2 separate regions of the Homo sapiens genome follow, and region 2 is linked to region 1. Evidence: fine-mapped expression QTL. Tissue or cell type: whole blood. Region 1 holds a variant in brackets; the other region holds the start of a gene. All regions are shown on one strand. Distances are between the middles of the regions.

What was found. PIP is the estimated chance that this variant, and not a neighbour inherited with it, causes the effect.
Region 2: it holds the start of CBX7, and the variant in region 1 is fine-mapped to the expression of CBX7 in whole blood (INTERVAL, PIP above 0.99).

Annotation. Positions count from the first base shown.
Region 1 is chr22:39,124,093-39,132,193 of GRCh38, forward strand. CBX7 (chromobox 7) reads right to left here. Exons shown (of 6, transcript NM_175709.5): 6 at 6,680-8,101. Among named protein-coding and RNA genes, the nearest start is that of CBX7, 25 kb to the right of the region's middle. RefSeq lists a silencer at 4,557-4,606 and an enhancer at 7,334-7,895. The variant G/A (reference allele first, on the strand shown) is at 4,034.
Region 2 is chr22:39,149,104-39,157,193 of GRCh38, forward strand. It overlaps CBX7 (chromobox 7), which reads right to left and starts at 3,577. Exons shown (of 6, transcript NM_175709.5): 1 at 3,273-3,577; 2 at 686-729. The coding sequence starts at 3,341. It also overlaps the pseudogene FUNDC2P4. RefSeq lists enhancers at 1-119, 1-75, 3,155-3,736 and silencers at 3,194-3,243, 3,314-3,883.

The DNA of each region.
Region 1 (8,101 bases):
TCTGTGCCTCCTCCCTCTCAGGACAGTGGAAGAGGCGTCCGCCTTCCCCTGACCCCAGCGACCGCCGTCCCCTCCTCTCCCCTAGTGCCTGCATTCCTTCCTCTTTCCTTCTGCAGCTTTTCTCTCTTGCCCCCTCCCCTCCAGCTTCACAGGAACTTTCCCGCGCCTGCTTTCCTTCGTGCTGTATGGCTTTTCTTTCCAGGAGGCATCCGGACTGAACAGTGAAGCGGCCAGGGATGGGGGGGTGCGGAGGGGGTCGGGGAGGGGGGCGGGGGAGGGCAGTGAAGCTGGGAGGTGGACGGTGAAGCGTGGGGGACTGTGAAGCGGGGCGCTGACAGGGGATCTCCACGCAATGAGCTCTCCCGGGGCACCGGCCAGAAGCCACGCCTTCCAGGAATGGACCACGGACCGGCCTCAGATGGCTAGCTGTGGCCACCTGCCCAGGCGAGCTACAGGGAAGAAGACGGTGGCTTCCAAGTGTGCCCCCAGCCTTTTCAGGGCCTGTAAGGTCCACGGTTCTCATCATCATGTTTAAGATGTTGTCTTCCCGCTCTCATGTTCTCACAACGAACTGCGGAATTTTCCAGAGGCTGCATGCCATGCAATACTGCAACAGGTTTTTACGCAGGAGATATGATAATCCACCTAACTATTAAGCCAAACAAAAAAGAGGCAACGGGGCGTGGGGGGGACACGGCGGGGAGTAAAGCAACGCCAACTCTCCTCACTGAATCTTTCTGTTTTGGAAAATATATTTTTCATAAAATGTGTTACTTATGTTAATAGGTAATGGCTTCAGGCCCAGTGCGGTGGCTCACATCTGTAATCCCAGCACTTTGGGAGGCTCAGGTGGATCACCTGAGGTCGGGAGTTTGAGACCAGCCTGGCCAACATGGCGAAACCCCATCTCTACTAAAAACACAAAAATTAGCTGGGTGTGGTGGTGGGCACCTGTATTCCCAGCTACTCGGGAGGCTGAGGCAGGAGAATGGCTTGAATCCAGGAGGCAGAGTTTGCAGCCGAGATCACGCCACCGCACTCCAGCCTGGGCAACAGAGCAAGGCTGTCTCCAAAAAAAAAACAAAACAAAAACCATATATATATATATATATATATATATATATATATATATATATATATATATATATGAGAAATTTAAAAATATCTAATTCATTAAAAAATAATGAAGCCATTACTTTTTTTTTTTTTTTTTTTTTTGGAGAGAGTCTCGATCTTGTCGCCCAGGCTGGAGTGCAGTGGTGGGATCTCGGCTCACTGCAACCTCCACCTCCTGGGTTCAAGTGAATCTCCTGGCTCAGCCTCCCAAGTAGCTGGGATTACAGGCGCCTGCCACCACGCCTGGCTAATTTTTGTATTTTTAGTAGACATGGGGTTTCACCATGTTGGTCAGGCTGGTCTCAAACTCTTGACCTCAGGTGATCCACCTGCCTCGGCCTCCCAAAGTGATGGGATTACAGGCGTGAGCCACTGCACCTGGCCTCTAATATGATAAATATTGATAGCTATAACCCACATACACAAAAGCTCTCTGGGGTTCTTAACAGTTTTTAAGAATGTATATGGATTCAGCAACCAAAAAGTTTGAGAACTGCTGTAGAAGGATTAGTCATGAGGTGTCTGGTGCCAGATACAGGTTCAAGTCTCTGCTCTGCTACGTCCTAGCCATGTAGCCTTGAGTAACTAACCGCAGCCTCTCTAACCACTTGTCTCCACTCACAGAAACAGGTGCAACAATAGTACCTACCTCAGAGAGTCGTTGTCAGCATGCAGGTAACAACATACACAAGAGCTATACTGAGCACGTGTACCAGGGCAATTCTGAGACTTTTCTTGTTTTTCGTTTTTTCCTTTGAGACAGGATCTCACTCTGTCACCTGGGCTGGAGTGCAATGGCATGATCATAGCTCACTACAGTCATGACCTCCTGGACTCAAGCAATCCTCCTGCTTCAGCCTCCCATGTAGCTGGGACTAGAGGTGCCACCACACCCAGCTAATTTTTTCTCATTTTTCATAGAGACGGGGTCTCGCTATGTTGCCCAGGCTGCTTTCCAACTCCAGGCCTTAAGTGATCCACCTGCTTTGGCCTCCCAAAGTGCTGGGATTACAGGCTTGAGCCACCACACCCAGCCATGACATGTTCTTGGGGATTCAGAACTTGGGTTAAGGCTTAAAGCTAAAGACAAAGCATGCTGAGTGCCCCACTTTTTATTTTATTTTATTTTATTTATTTATTTTTTGAGACAGAGTCTCGTTCTGTTACCCAGGTTGGAGTACAGTGTCAAAATCTCGGCTCACTGCAAGCTCCGCCTCACAGGCTCAAGTGATTCTCCTGCCTCAGCCTCCCAAGTAGCTGGGATTACAGGTGCACGCCACTATGCCTGTCTAATTTTTATATTTTTAGTAAAGACGGGGTTTCCCCAAGTTGGCCAGGCTGGTCTCAAACTCCGGACCACAGGTGATCCTCCCGCCTCGGCCTCCCAAAGTGCTGGGATTACAGGCATGAGCCACTGCGCCCGGCCCTGAGTGCTCCACTTCCTAAAGGGAGCCACCAAGGAGTTGCCAGCAATCGACTAGAGCCAGACTCTACCCCCAGTGCAGGAAACTAGGACGAGGCAGAATCAGCCCTCATGTTACCACCTATGAGCATACACATGTGCGTGCATGCGTGCGCACACACATACACGAGCGTGCTATAGGAAAACAGCAAGAGTGACGCCACCTTGAAGCGTAACCGCCAGGAGGACTGGTGTCTGACCCTTGCATAACAATGTGTCCTGCAGCAAGGTCTTTAAACAATGCCCATCGCACAGATGACCCCTCGTAAAGATGCTTATCCAGCCTCCCCAGTGCTCATGAGTCTTGACAACAAAGTCTGAAGACATGACCAGCTACACGTTTCACCCTAAAAGCTTGCTATATAAAGAACACTTTCTGGAGGGCGGCTACGGGGATCTGCCATCTCTCAGCTGCCGGAGACACGGCCTCTGTTCTTAAGTCCCCATTAAATGTTTCTTTCTCAGAAACTGGATTTGTCAGCCTCTGTCTTTGGTCTCTTGCCTCCCTTGGTCTTGGGGGCAGGCATGCATAAATCTACCCACCACCAAACACAGGCACATCGCCTTCTTCCTCCTCTGACCCTTCCCCCACCCGTGGCTTTATCTACCACTATGTGCCCAGGCCCCAGCATCTGCATCCCAGCAAGTGTGGGGTAGCACTGAGGATGGTGGAGTCTGGGTGAGTGGCGCATGAGGGTCTTTATATTGCTGCCTCTACTTCTGCATGTTTGAATTTTTTCATAATAAAAAGTTTAGGCCAGGCACAGTGGCTCACGCCTGTAATCCCAGAACTTTGGGAGGCCAAGGTGGGTGGATCATGAGGTCAGGAGTTCAAGACCAGTCTGGCCAAGATGGTGAAACCATCTCTCTACTAAAAATACAAAAATTAGCCGGGCGTGGTGGCATGCGCCTGTAATCCCAGCTACTAGGGAGGCTCAGGCAGAGAATTGCTTGAACCTGGGAGGCAGAGGTTGCAGTGAGCCAAGATCGTGCCACTGCACTCCAGCCTGGGCAACAGAGCAAGACTCTGTCTCAAAAAAAACAGGGTGGGCGCAGTGGTCACACCTGTATTCCCAGCACTTTGGGAGGCTGAGGCGGGTGGATCACGACGTCTGAAGTTAGAGACTAGCCTGACCAACATGGTAAAACCCCGTCTCTACTAAAAATACAGGCATGGTGGTGCGTGCCTGTAATTCCAGCTACTCAGGAGGCTGAGGCGGGAGAATCGCTTGAACCTGGAAGGCAGAGGTTGTAGTGAGCCGAGATCACGCCATTGCACTTCAGCCTGGATGACAGAGGGAGATTCCGTCTCAAAAAAAAAAAAAAAAAAAGGCTGGGCACAGTGGCTTGTGCCTGTAATCCCAGCACTTTGGGAGTCCCAGGCGGGTGGATCACGAGGTCAGGAGATTGAGGCCATCCTGGCTAACATGGTGAAATCCCGTCCCTACTAAAAAA[G/A]ATACAAAAAATTAGCTGGGTGTGGTGGCAGGCACCTGTAGTCCCAGCTACTCAGGAGGCTGAGGCAGGAGAATGGCATGAACCCGGGAGGTGGAGTTGCAGTGAGCTGAAATCGTGCCACTGCACGATTCTACCAAATGTGTTTTTCTCCCCTAAGCTTCAGAACTGTTTGTGAACTGCTTGTGGGACCACTCTACCTCAACACCTGTATCATGGACTGAATGTCTGTGTGTGTGTCCACCCTCTCATCACCCACCGCAAATTCTTATGTTGAAGCCTTAGGCCCCAGTGTGACGTTATTTGGAGGTGGGGCCTTTGAGAGGTCTTTAGATTTACTTGAGGCCATGAGGGTGGGGCCCCCATGATGGTATTAGCATTCTTAGAAGAAAAGAAAGAGACATCAAAGCATCCTCTCTCTGCCAGGTAAAGACACAGTGAGAAGGTGACCCTCGCCAGATACTGTATCTGCCGGCATCTTGGTCTTGGACTTCCCGGCCCCCAGAACTGTGAGAAATGAATATCTGTGTTCTGGTGTATGACACTGTGTTAGAGCTGCCTGTACTGCCAACCCACACACACTCTGAACTCAGTGAAACCAGCCCGGCCACGCCTTCCTCTGCCAGGTGTTTCCACTTGCTCAGCTCTCACCCTGCCATCCTCATCTCTGCCTTTAGCCATGGCCAGGGTCCAGTCTTCACTTTCTGCCTAGTGGGTAATTTGGATGCCAGGTGGGGGTGCCTTGGCCTCTGCATGGACCCAGCTGAGAAGTGCACGAAGTCAACACGCCAGAGCAGCTTCAGTAATGGGATGGGAAGGATGGGAGAGTGGCTATAGATTCCTATCCCCAGTTGGACGGACAATTTCGGGAGGCGTTTCGAACCCTTCCCCGAAAGTCCAGGTGGAATCAAACTCCTGTTCCCACAGCACCCACCTCAATAATGTGCCCTTACCCTGGCTTTCCCTCCTCCCCTGGCCCTGTCTCCACTCTTGCTTCCTAGAACCCCCTCCCAAATAAACTACCTGCACCCAAGTCCCTGCCTTAGACTCTGTTCTCATGGACGCTGCATCAGCTTGCTACGGCTGCCATAATAAGCTCCCACAGACCAGGAAGCTTAAACAACAGAAATGTATCCTTTCACAGTTGTGGAGGCTGAAGTCCAGGATCAAAGGTCAGCAGGGTTGGTTCCTTCTGAGCTTGGAGAGAAGGCTCTGATGTAGGCCTCTCTTCCTGGCTTATGGATGGCATCTCTGTCTTCACACAGTCATCTCACAGCATGTGTTTGTGTCCAATATCCCCCTCCCCCCCTTTTTTTTTTTTTCGAGATGGAGTCTCCAGGCTGGAGTGCAGTGGCGATCTTGGCTCACTGCAACCTCCACCTCTTGGGTTCAAGAGATTCTCCTGCCTCAGCCTCCAGAGTAGCTGTGATTATAGGTGCCCGGCTAATTTTTGCATTTTTAGTAGAGACAGGGTTTCACCATATAGGTCAGGCTGGTCTCAAACTCCTGACCTCAGGTGATCCGCTCACCTCAGCCTCCCCAAGTGCTGGGATTATAGGCATGAGCCATTGTGCCAGGTCCCAGGCATATTCTTGATCCCTCACTTTCATCAATTCAGTGGCCACATCTTGACGCTTCCACCACCTAAACCTATCCCCAGTCTATCTGTTTCTCTTTCACTGACATGTCCACAGTTGCGGCCACCATCCCCTTCCACCTGCATGGCTACAACAGACTGTTTAACTCTTCTCCCCACCATCAGCCCTGCCTGCTCCAGCCTAGCCTCTGTCCTGCAGCCCATGATGCACTGAAATGCAGACGTGCTCCCAGGACTTGCCCTTGGCTCTGACCACCTGTCTCAACGTTCAGATGTGTGTGCTAAGCTTGGCTGAACACACAGTAGGTGAGCGTTAGCCCCATGACAGTCCTGCGATCCGGAATCTGCCGTTGCAGAGACCTGCGATGCTCACCCCTCCAAGGTTCTGGAATAAAGGACTCTTGGGGAGAAGCAGATAAAAGGTGCCAGAAGCACTTCCAGGCCTCTGATGACACACTACGGACCATGGTGATGGCCTCACCCAGAGACACCCGCAGTTTCCTGTTCCCGTCACCTCAGTGAATTCTCTGTCCATCTGGGGTCTCAGCGAAGGGAAAGACTTGTCCGAGATTATGGCCGGTGACCAGCAGACCTGGGACCTAAACCCCAGGCATTGCCAGGGGCTGAAGCTCTTTCTTCAGCACAGTGGGGACACCACTGTCTGGCCTCTGAGCTGCAGCTCAGCCATTGTAACCCCTGTGACCTGCACATATACATCCAGATGGCCTGCAGGTCCATTATGGCTTGTTCCTGCCCTGCCCCAACTGATCGACCTGGTGACCTTCTTCCGGACAATGAGTATTATGATCTCCCCAACAGGCACCTTGTGACCCCCTCCCCTGCTGACAATAGCTAACCACCTTTCACTGTAACTTTCCACTGCTTACCCCAGTCCTATAAAACTGCCCCACCCCTATCTCCCTTGGCTGACTCTTTTTGGACTCAGCCCACTTGCACCCAAGTGAAATAAACAGCCTTGTTGCTCGCACAAAGTCTGTTGGTGGACGGATGCACTTGACAACCACCAGAAGGAATAATCAAATGCCCAGGAATTTTCTTTTTTTTAAATCATCTTTAATGTATTTTTAATAATTTTTTTGCCTCATTTACCAGATAAATCATCTAAATAAATAGATGCTATACAGTCTCTTACCAATGTCAGTACAAAAATAAAACCGCGCTCTACATCCACTCTGACTCTCCCAGCACACACACACTCAGCAAAGGCATGTGCTTGGAATCAACTCGTGCCCCCGACCCCTCCCAGATACATTCATTTAGTCTGAACAAAGCTCGAAGCTCATTCTGTGCAAAGGAAGCGCTCTTGTGCTGAGACCTGGTGGCCGCAGCTGGCCACTTCGAAAGCAAAAGCTAAACCACCTCACAGAAGCACAGCGCCTGCCCCCAGAACAAGGGGACAGGAGGAGCTTGGCAACGAGGTCATCACCCGAACAGCAGTGACAGTCCTGCATTCCAGGCGGCTGTGCCAGGGGTGGGGGTACCTCCTCCGCACCCCCCACCACAAAAGGAAAAGTGCCCACGGGTCTCTACATTCAAAGCGGGTGGGGGCTGGGGGAAAGAAAGGCAGATGGGCAAATGCTTTCTAAACCCTCCCCCCACCCCCAAGAGTACTGGCCTTTTAAGAGGGCTGCGGGGGTGGAGGTCACTGTCTGCCTTGCTCTACTGGGCCACTCTGGGCTGGAAGGAGGCCTGCACGGCCACAGCCGTAGGTGACCTCATAGAGGTCACCTGTCCTGGAGGATGGTCCTAACGGCCCACAGCCTTTTCCCCCAGGGAGCTGGCTCACTACAGCCCATGAGCCACCTGGCTGCCCTGAGCTGGGCACCTCAGGCCCACCCGTCCCAGGTCACACCCCTGGAGTTCAGCTCTCCCTGAGCCACGGAGTTCCCCATGGGCCATAAAGGGCTGAGTAAGAGGAAAGATGTGTCCTGCTGCTGCAGACAAAAGCAACTGCAGCACCCACACAGAAAGCCCCGTGAATCCACAGACCCACAGATTGCGCAAATAGTTCTTTGAAAGTGACCAGGAAGCAGGAAAAAGGTCCTATGTCCCCTGGGGGATGGGGAGCGTGACTTCTGCTGGAAGCTGCCAGCCATGTTCCAAAGTCATGGGCCAAAACATTCAACTAGAGACCCCCCACAACCCTCTATCATCTTTACCTCCGCTGGGCACCCCTCTCCTGGAAGAGTCCCCTCTGAACCCCAAGCTTCCCCTTCCCCTCCACAGGGCTCCACAGCTGGAGATGGGTGGTGATTCCTGCCGCTCCTTGTCCAGACCCACCCCACGTATTCCTCTAGATTCCATTCCCTGGGCTGGAGGTGAATCAGGTCATCCCGGAGGGGACTGTCCCCCAATGGAAGCACTGAATTGACCGTGGACAACTAAAGATCGAGGAGGAAGGAAAGAGAGACTCAGGGATCTGGGAAGCCTGTCAACAGAGCACCCCATGCAGA
Region 2 (8,090 bases), 25 kb after region 1:
GAGAAGCTGGGAGGTCTCAGATACAGCTCCCTGCCTCCCAACTCCGAGATGGGAGGCTGGGAAGGCACAGAGGAGACACCTGAAAAGGAGAAGGCCTAGTTCAAGTCCCAACTCTGCCTCCACTTGCTGTGTGACCTAAGGCAAGCTGCTTACCCTCTCTGAGCCTGTTTCCTCACCTTGAGAGCGCCTGATCACACCTACCTTACAAAGCTGTATGGGAACCTGCTCTATAGACTGGAAAGTGCCGTCTAGAGGTGAGGGGGATTCAGGCTCTGCCCCTGGCCACACAGCACTGAGGACTCATGCAGCACTGTGCTTAAAGCAGCTGGGGTCCCCTCCTCCTGTCCAGCAGCCATCTCCAGTAGCCCGGATGCTGGGCCTTCACCTCCCAGTTGCCAAGAAAAGCCACAGGGAGGGGAGGAGGGAGAGCAGAAGCTCCAACTAGCAGAGGAGCTCAACACTCAGGAGGGCAGGGTGAGAAGAGAAGCTGGAGACCCACCTTGACCCTCCTGTGGTCCAGGGGGAAACTGAGGCCCAGAGAAGATGATGATTAAATCAAGGTCAGCTGTCCAGTTACAAGAGTAGCTGGAGCTAAAAGCTAGGCAGGGGAGGGGGCAAAAGGCAGGTGGAGGAATGCATGGGTCGGTAGGCAGACAGACAGACACACACACATGAAGGAGCTTACTTTGGGGGCCATCCTTTCCACTTCACCAGATACTCGACTTTACCCTGAGAAGAGAGAGAAGCAGACACAGTGAGTCTCGTGGTTGCCCCTACAGCCACTCGGAAGGACAGTTAAGGCCCAAAGGAGCCCAGCTCCAAATCCCATCTGCAGACAGGTGTCTCCCCAACACACAAACACAATCCGGGGACTGTCCACCAGATCCTCGCCAACCCATATAACCGCGACTGCTGCATGCCCGCCCCATACTGCCCTCCCTAGGACAGCACAGGAGTGCGTCTGGCTCCAGCCACCTCTGAGGCTCCTGAGGCCCAAGCCCAGGGCTCATGTCACACACTGGGAGCTGAGACTGCATGGAGGTGTGCATGCGTGGCCAAAGACCCACAGTGTCTAGAGCCCCAGTGCACAGGTGGGAACGCTTACTTTCTTTTTTAGATTGGAAGAGTCTCCAAATACGAAAACATTCCTCTCTGGGGTAGTCCCCACGCTCCTCCCCCATCTGCTGAGTCCCCTTTCAGTCTGTGAGTGGCTGCCTCTGGCTCAGAGGTAATGGGCCAGTGACTTGAGGACTCTCAACTCAAAAGACCCTGGCAGGACCCCATGGAAGACTGGCAAAGTCTCCACCTTCAGAAGGGGTGGTCAGCCCTGTGGTTGTTAGAAAGTAGAGCCAGGCCCCTCCCTTCCTCACAGGCTTTAAAAGTTTACAGTTACGGTGGCTCAAGCCTGTCATCCCAACACTTTGGAAGGCTGAGGCTGGAAGATCGCTTGAGCCCAGGAAGGAGTTTGAGACAAGCCTGGGCAACACGGTGAGACCCCTGTCTCTGAAAAAAGGAAATTAGTTGGGCATGGTGGCACTTGTCTGTGGTCCCAGCTACACAGGAGGCTGAGGCAGGAGGATCGTTTGAGCCGGGGAGGTTGAGGCTGCAGTGAGCCATGTTCATGCCCCTGCACTGCAGCCTGGGTGACAGAGTGAGATCTTGGTGCCAAGAAAAAAAAAAGTTTACAGTCCAACCCCATTGTGAGTGAAGCCCCTGCACGCCAGAACTTTAAGACCAAAATATGATACCTCCTCACAGAGGCTTTCCCTGGTGACCCTCTCCCATGCTGTCTCCACTGGCACCTTGCAGTTCTATTTCTGCAGAGCACACAGCTCCATCTGAAGGCATCTGTCTGTATCTCCTCATTCACTGTGTGCCGCCTCTGCAGAATGCCAGCTCCCTGAGGGAAGGGGTGGATCCCTGGGGCTTAGACTGGTGCCTGGTACCTGACCAACCCTCAATAAATATTTTGAGTGACTGGCCGAAGGAATGATGATCTCGCCCTCTTGTGCTACCCTGCGGGCTCCATCGTAGAGGGAGTTAGTGCTGTGCCTGCTTCAGGCTACACAGCACGAAAAGCACTGAGCTTTGTGGAATAAATCAATTCTCTTTTAAGTGGAGAAAACCCTAGGAAAAAGGAGAAGGAGGAGGAACAGCTGCCTCAATCAGAAGAGTAAAACCCCAAGCACAGCTGGAGGAAGAAAAGATGCTCCTGACCACCTTGACCTTCACCCTTGGCCCGAGATGCCAGGACTGAGTTTTCTCTATGGAGAAAGAAGATGGGCTGCCAATCAGCCCAGTTGAGCTCCTGCTCTACCTCCCTATCTAACTTGCTCGGTGACCTTGAGCAGGTCACTTCCTCTGCCTGGGCCTCAGTTTTTGTCTCTGTTAAATGGGAGGAGGTGACCCCCTAAGGCCCCTCCCAGTCGGCCTGGAGCCTCCCAAAGGGCTGCAGGGAGGAGGAGACAAAGGAAGGACAGTAGTGCGTACCAGGAAAGGAACTTCTCCCCAAGGATTTCCCCAGCCTTAGGCGAGCCCCCTCGCCAAACAAGTGCACGGGAGGTGTAGACGCCAGGCCCGGACAAAGTCTAGCCCCAAAGTGTGGGGTTCTGAAACCAGCAGAACAGACACCTCCTTAAATTGCAGGGTGTATGTTTTGAAGAAGGCAGATGGGGTAGGAGACTAGGGGATGCCCCAGCGCAGGGGGCGGGCTTCAGAGCCCTGGCCTGGGCTAGGAGTTGAGGTGGGGGTGGGGGCGGGGAATAGGGATGTGCTCGGGTGGCGTAGAGGGGGCAGGATCGGAAAAGGCCAAAGTCCAGCAGGAAAAACTTCAGAGGCCGGAGGAGACTTTTCCAAAGCTCCACTTACAACTTGAAAGGATTTGGTGCCAAGCGTCCAGAGTCCCGAGTTCAAAACCCAGCTCTGACCATAACGCGCTAGGCAAGTCCTTTCAACTTGGGCCTCAGTCTCCCCATATTTACAATAAAAGGGGAGCGAGGTGGGATGGCGCTGAGGATCCCTACGTCCGATCCTAATCTCCAGCTCAGGCAGGCTCGGCCGCCACTAGCATCCTGGAGCGACAACTTTTGTTCTACTCGCCCTACACGGTGGCAGGGAAACTGAGGCACGGGCTGGGGAGACGGGCCCAGCAGCGCAGGGCTGCCGGGGCCCCCGCGCCCCGCTTTCCCCTTCAGCCCCAGCGTGGAGGGAGCGGTGCTGGGGACGGGAGGGACCCCACTGGGGTCCTGGGAGCCGCCCCCGGGCAGCCTCACCTTCCGCACGCGCTTCTTCCGGATGCTCTCCACGGCGAACACCTGCTCGCCGATGGCTGACAGCTCCATGCGGGGCGGCGGGCGAGCGGGCCCGGGGCCGGGCCGGGCCGGGGGCGGAGCTGCGGGGCCGCGGCTGCGGCGCGCGATGCTGGGGCTGGCGGGGTCCCCGTCACCCTCGTCCGGGCGCGCACGCGCACGCGCACGCGCGCACACCCCCTCGCGCTCCCTCACGCCGCCGACGTTCCATTTTTGAACCTGCGCAACGTTTTCCTCGGCGCCAGCGAGCGAGCGCGCGCAAGGAGGGGGCGGGGCGGGAGCGCGCGGAACGGCCGCGGGCTCGGCTCGCGCCCTGAGGGTCAGCTCCGCCCCCGAGCCCCGCCCCCATCGGAACCCCGCCCCCGGGGCCCGCCCCCGCGGGTTGCGATTGGGCCGCGGGCCGCGAGCCGCGAGCGCTGCCGTGGGACTTATTTGGCTCGGTCACCGGCTGGGGCGGGGCGGAGGCTCGCGCGCCCCGTCTTGCTGTGACGCCGGGGCGGGACGTGATCCTTAATACCCAGGCGGGCGCCTCATAGCCTCCCGGTGACTGCCAGGGGCCGAAGTGGCAGGGCCCAGTGGAGCCGACGACAAAGTCAAGGCTCAGAGCGGGGAGGCCATTTGCTCACCTCCCGCAGCGGAGGAGACTGGGCCCGAGGCGCAGCCCCTCGAGTTGCAGGAGAGCCGGGACCCAAAAGGCTTCCCACCGTGTCCGGACGTCGCAGGGCCGAGGTCTCCCTAATCCGGCCTTCTCCGCGGCGCAGTTTGGCCAGTGTCTCCACGTCCGTCCACCCACCCCTCCATCCGCCCTTCCATTTGTCCATCCACCCGACCCTCGGTGGTCGGTGCCCAGACGCACGGGTCAGACGCGGGCGCTGCCTCGAGGGCTCCCGGGCCGGGCCCTCGTTCGCGGCAGGAGCGGCCGCGGTGGAGCTGAGGTCCCCCGGGGACGGATTTTGCCGCCGCGCTGCCCCAGCCTTCCCCAAACCCGCGTGTACTGGGCGCTAGGTGCTTAGTGGGGGCTCAACCATTTGTGGCACGAGACGAACTCTTGATTCCCCACCCCCCTTCCTTTTTCGCTAACGCGCCTCCATTCCTCACTGGGAGCCCGGCGTCGTCCCTGCTCCTTCCTGTACTGACCCCAACTTCTGTCGCTCCGGCATCCCCTCGGGGACTCGGGTCTGCCTGCCCTCACCGCACCCACCTCCCAGGTTCGCCCCGTCTTTTCTCTGGACCACAGCAGAGACCTCGCGGAGCTGCCCTCCCTCCGATCTCAGCCACACAGTGCCAGAGTGTGCTTCTAAAATGCAGATCTGACGGGGTCACCCTGTGCTTAAAAATTTTCCTCCCTATTTCCCTCACAATAAAATCCAACACCTCTTTCTGGCACATAGAAAAAGAGAATAATAGATTCACACCTGACTTTTCATCAAGAGCAACAAAGCCAGAGAGAAAATAACCATCATCTTAGAATTATATATTCAGTGAAAATGTATTTCAAGAATTATGTACCCAGTATGAGGCACATGTATCCAGAACGTAGGTGAAATCATAGCACTTACAAATACAAAAACTTAAGAGTTTGCCACTGGTAGACCCTCCGGAGGGAGATTCCAAAGCTGGAACTTCAGGCAGGAAAAAGATGATCCCAGACGGAGGTCTGATGCAACTGGGAATAAAGAAAAATGAAGAACAGCGATAGTGTGAAACAATAACAATGACTTCTGGATAAAAACAGATTTAAAATACACAACAGTGATGGCATTTACTTGGGTGAATGGAGTTAAAGTGTTCTAAGATCCTTATATTCTTCAGGAGGAAGGTGAAGATAGATACCAAATACACTTTGACGAATTTAAGAATCCAGATTGTCATTACTGGGATAAACACTGTAGGACTGGAAATACTGTGTATAGTTATCCAAATTATTGGAGGAGGAAAAAGAATGATTAAACCAACCCAAACAACTGTAAAGCAGGCAAGAATGGAGAGAAAAATAAATACAAGACGGGGCAGGGAGGGGACAAATAGACGATAGCTATAAATTCGAATATTTTGTGATTCAATAAATGCAACTAAATATTGCAGTTAAAATACAAAGATTATCAGAATGCATAAATAGCTAGATGCAGTTTACAAGAGAAACCCACAAGAGACACTTCCAAAACATAAAGCTAGTGATGGTCAAAAGTAAACACATGGGGGGAAAATACCACGCAAATGCTAACGAAAAGAAGGCTGGTGCAGTTATTTTAATATCGAGGGAAAAACATCACTAGAGATAAATAAGGTCATTTCATAATGAAAAGTGTCCAATTCACCAGAAAAATAGAACAATTTCACATTTGTATGCAAATCATCTTAAAATATAAGAAACATGAAGAAGACAGCTAGATGGAGAGATAGACAAATCCACAATTATAGTGGGAGATCTTAACACTCACCCCTCCATAAGTGGTAGGAGAAGAAGAAAAATATTCAATAGTATATAGGAGATTTGAACACAATTAATAAACTTAACTAATGGACTTCATAGCACACTGTTATCTACCATGGTAAAATACTCCCCTTTACAAGACATGGAATACTTACAAAAACAGTTCATTTCAATAAATTTCAAAAGTCAGAAATAACAGAATACATTCTCTGACCACAACACATATAAGCTAGAGATGAATAATAAAAAGTTCACTTCAAAAGCCCCATATGTTTGGAAAGTAAGAAGTATGGGTTTTTTTGTTTTTGTTTTTCATTATATTTATTTATTTATTTTGAGACAGAGTTTTGCTCTTTCACCCAGGCTGAAGTGAAGTGGCACGATCTTGGCTCACTACAACCTCTGCCTCCCAGGTTCCCAAGTAGCTGGGATTATAGGCACCCGCCACCACCCCCAGCTAATTTTTGTCTTTTTAGTAGAGGTGGGGTTTCACCATGTTGGCCAGGTTGGTCTCGAACTCCTGACCTCAGGTGATTCAACCATCTTGGCCTCCCAAAATGCTACAATTACAGGCATGAGCCACGGAAGAGGTACGTTTTTATGTTAACTAGCGGTTCAAAAAAAAGAAATTGTAATGGAAATTATAAAATATTTTTAACTGCTCTTCCGCTGTCGCCGTGGGAATGGAAATCTGTCCCTCGTGCTGGAAGCCAACCAGTGGTGATGACTCTGTGTGCCACTCCGCCTCCTACAGCGCGGATCCTCTGCGTGTGTCCTCGCAAGACAAGCTCGATGAAATGGCCGAGTCCAGTCAAGCAAACTTTGAGGGAAATTTTGAGTCGCTGGACCTTGTGGAATTTGCTAAGAAACAGCCATGGTGGTGTAAGCTGTTCAGGCAGGAATCTGGACCTTCCCCGAAAAGTGAAGGGTGGCAACCCAGCCGTTCATTGGGGGTGTCACTGAATGGTGCACGGGTTTCATATCCCAGAAGGTTGGAAAGTTGGCTGTAACAGTTGTGGGAGGTGTTTTGTTTTTTTCTCCTTCAGCTTGCAAATCATACTGGGTACATCAAAGTTGACTGGCAACGAGTGGAGAAAGATATAAAGAAAGCCAAAGAGCTGCTGAAGATCCCTTAAGAGCAATCAGATACCTACCAAGGTCAGGAGCAAAGCTGAGGAGGTGGTGTCGTTTGTGAAGAATGTTCTAGTGACTGGGGGATTTTTCGGAGGCTTTCTGTTTGGCATGGCATCCTAAGGAAGATGACCTTATTTTCATTGTTCTTGTTTTTTTTCCATCCAGCAGTCTCTACACTCCATCATAGGACATCAAGTCTCTCCTCTTCTCCTGTGCCTTCCTCCCTGCTGTAGCAAATCCGAGTGGCTTCTATAAGCATCTCTTGGTACAAGTTAATGTGGCCCTTGGCCAAGTGCGGTGGCTCATGCCTGTAATCCTAGCAATTTGGGAGGCCGAGGCGGGTGGATTGCCGGAGCTTAGGAGTTTGAGACCAGCCTAGGCAATATGATGAAACCCCATCTCTACTAAAATACAAAAAAAAAAAAAATTAGCCAGACGTGGTGGCAGGCACCTATAATCCCAGCTACTTGGGAGACTGAGGCAGGAGAGTTGCTTGAACCCGGGAGGCGGAGGTTGCAGTGAGCTGAGATCGCGCCACTGCACTCCAGCCTGGGTGACAGAGTGAGACTCCGTCTCCAAAAAAAAAAAAAAAGTTAATGTGGCCCTACCATGAGCTTGATGGTGGCAGAAGAGGCAATAGTTGTTAGGTCTCCTCCCATACACCCCGTATGTGGCCAATCTGTAGGTCAGCAAGAAGGTTCCTTTTCCCCCATGCAAGACACTTACCAGATCACATTGCAAGATGACTCGCCATGGAGGATGAGCAGACCCTGAAAGGTTGTCTCAAACTGTTGATTTGGAAAAGAAATAAGCACATAGATAAACTTATTGTGTGCTGCATGGAAAGGAACTGAATACATTTGCCTTTAAGCATGAAAAAAATATTTTTAACTGAATGACAATAGAAATATTACATAGTAAAAATGTTGGGCTATGGCTAGTGCGCTTCTTAGAGGGAAGTTTATTGCCTTTTGTGCTTATATTAGTAAAGAGAAAAGGCTGAGAGTAATGAACAAGCGCTCGTTTCAAGAAGCTAGAAAAAGAGCAGCAGAATAAACCAAAGAAAATGAAAGGAAGGCAAGAGTAAAGGTACAGGAGAAAATAGGCCAGGCACAGTGGCTCACGCCTGTAATCCCAACACTTTCGGAGGCCAAGGCAGACGTATCACCTGAGGTCAGAAGTTTAAGACCAGCCTGGGCAACATGGCAAAATTC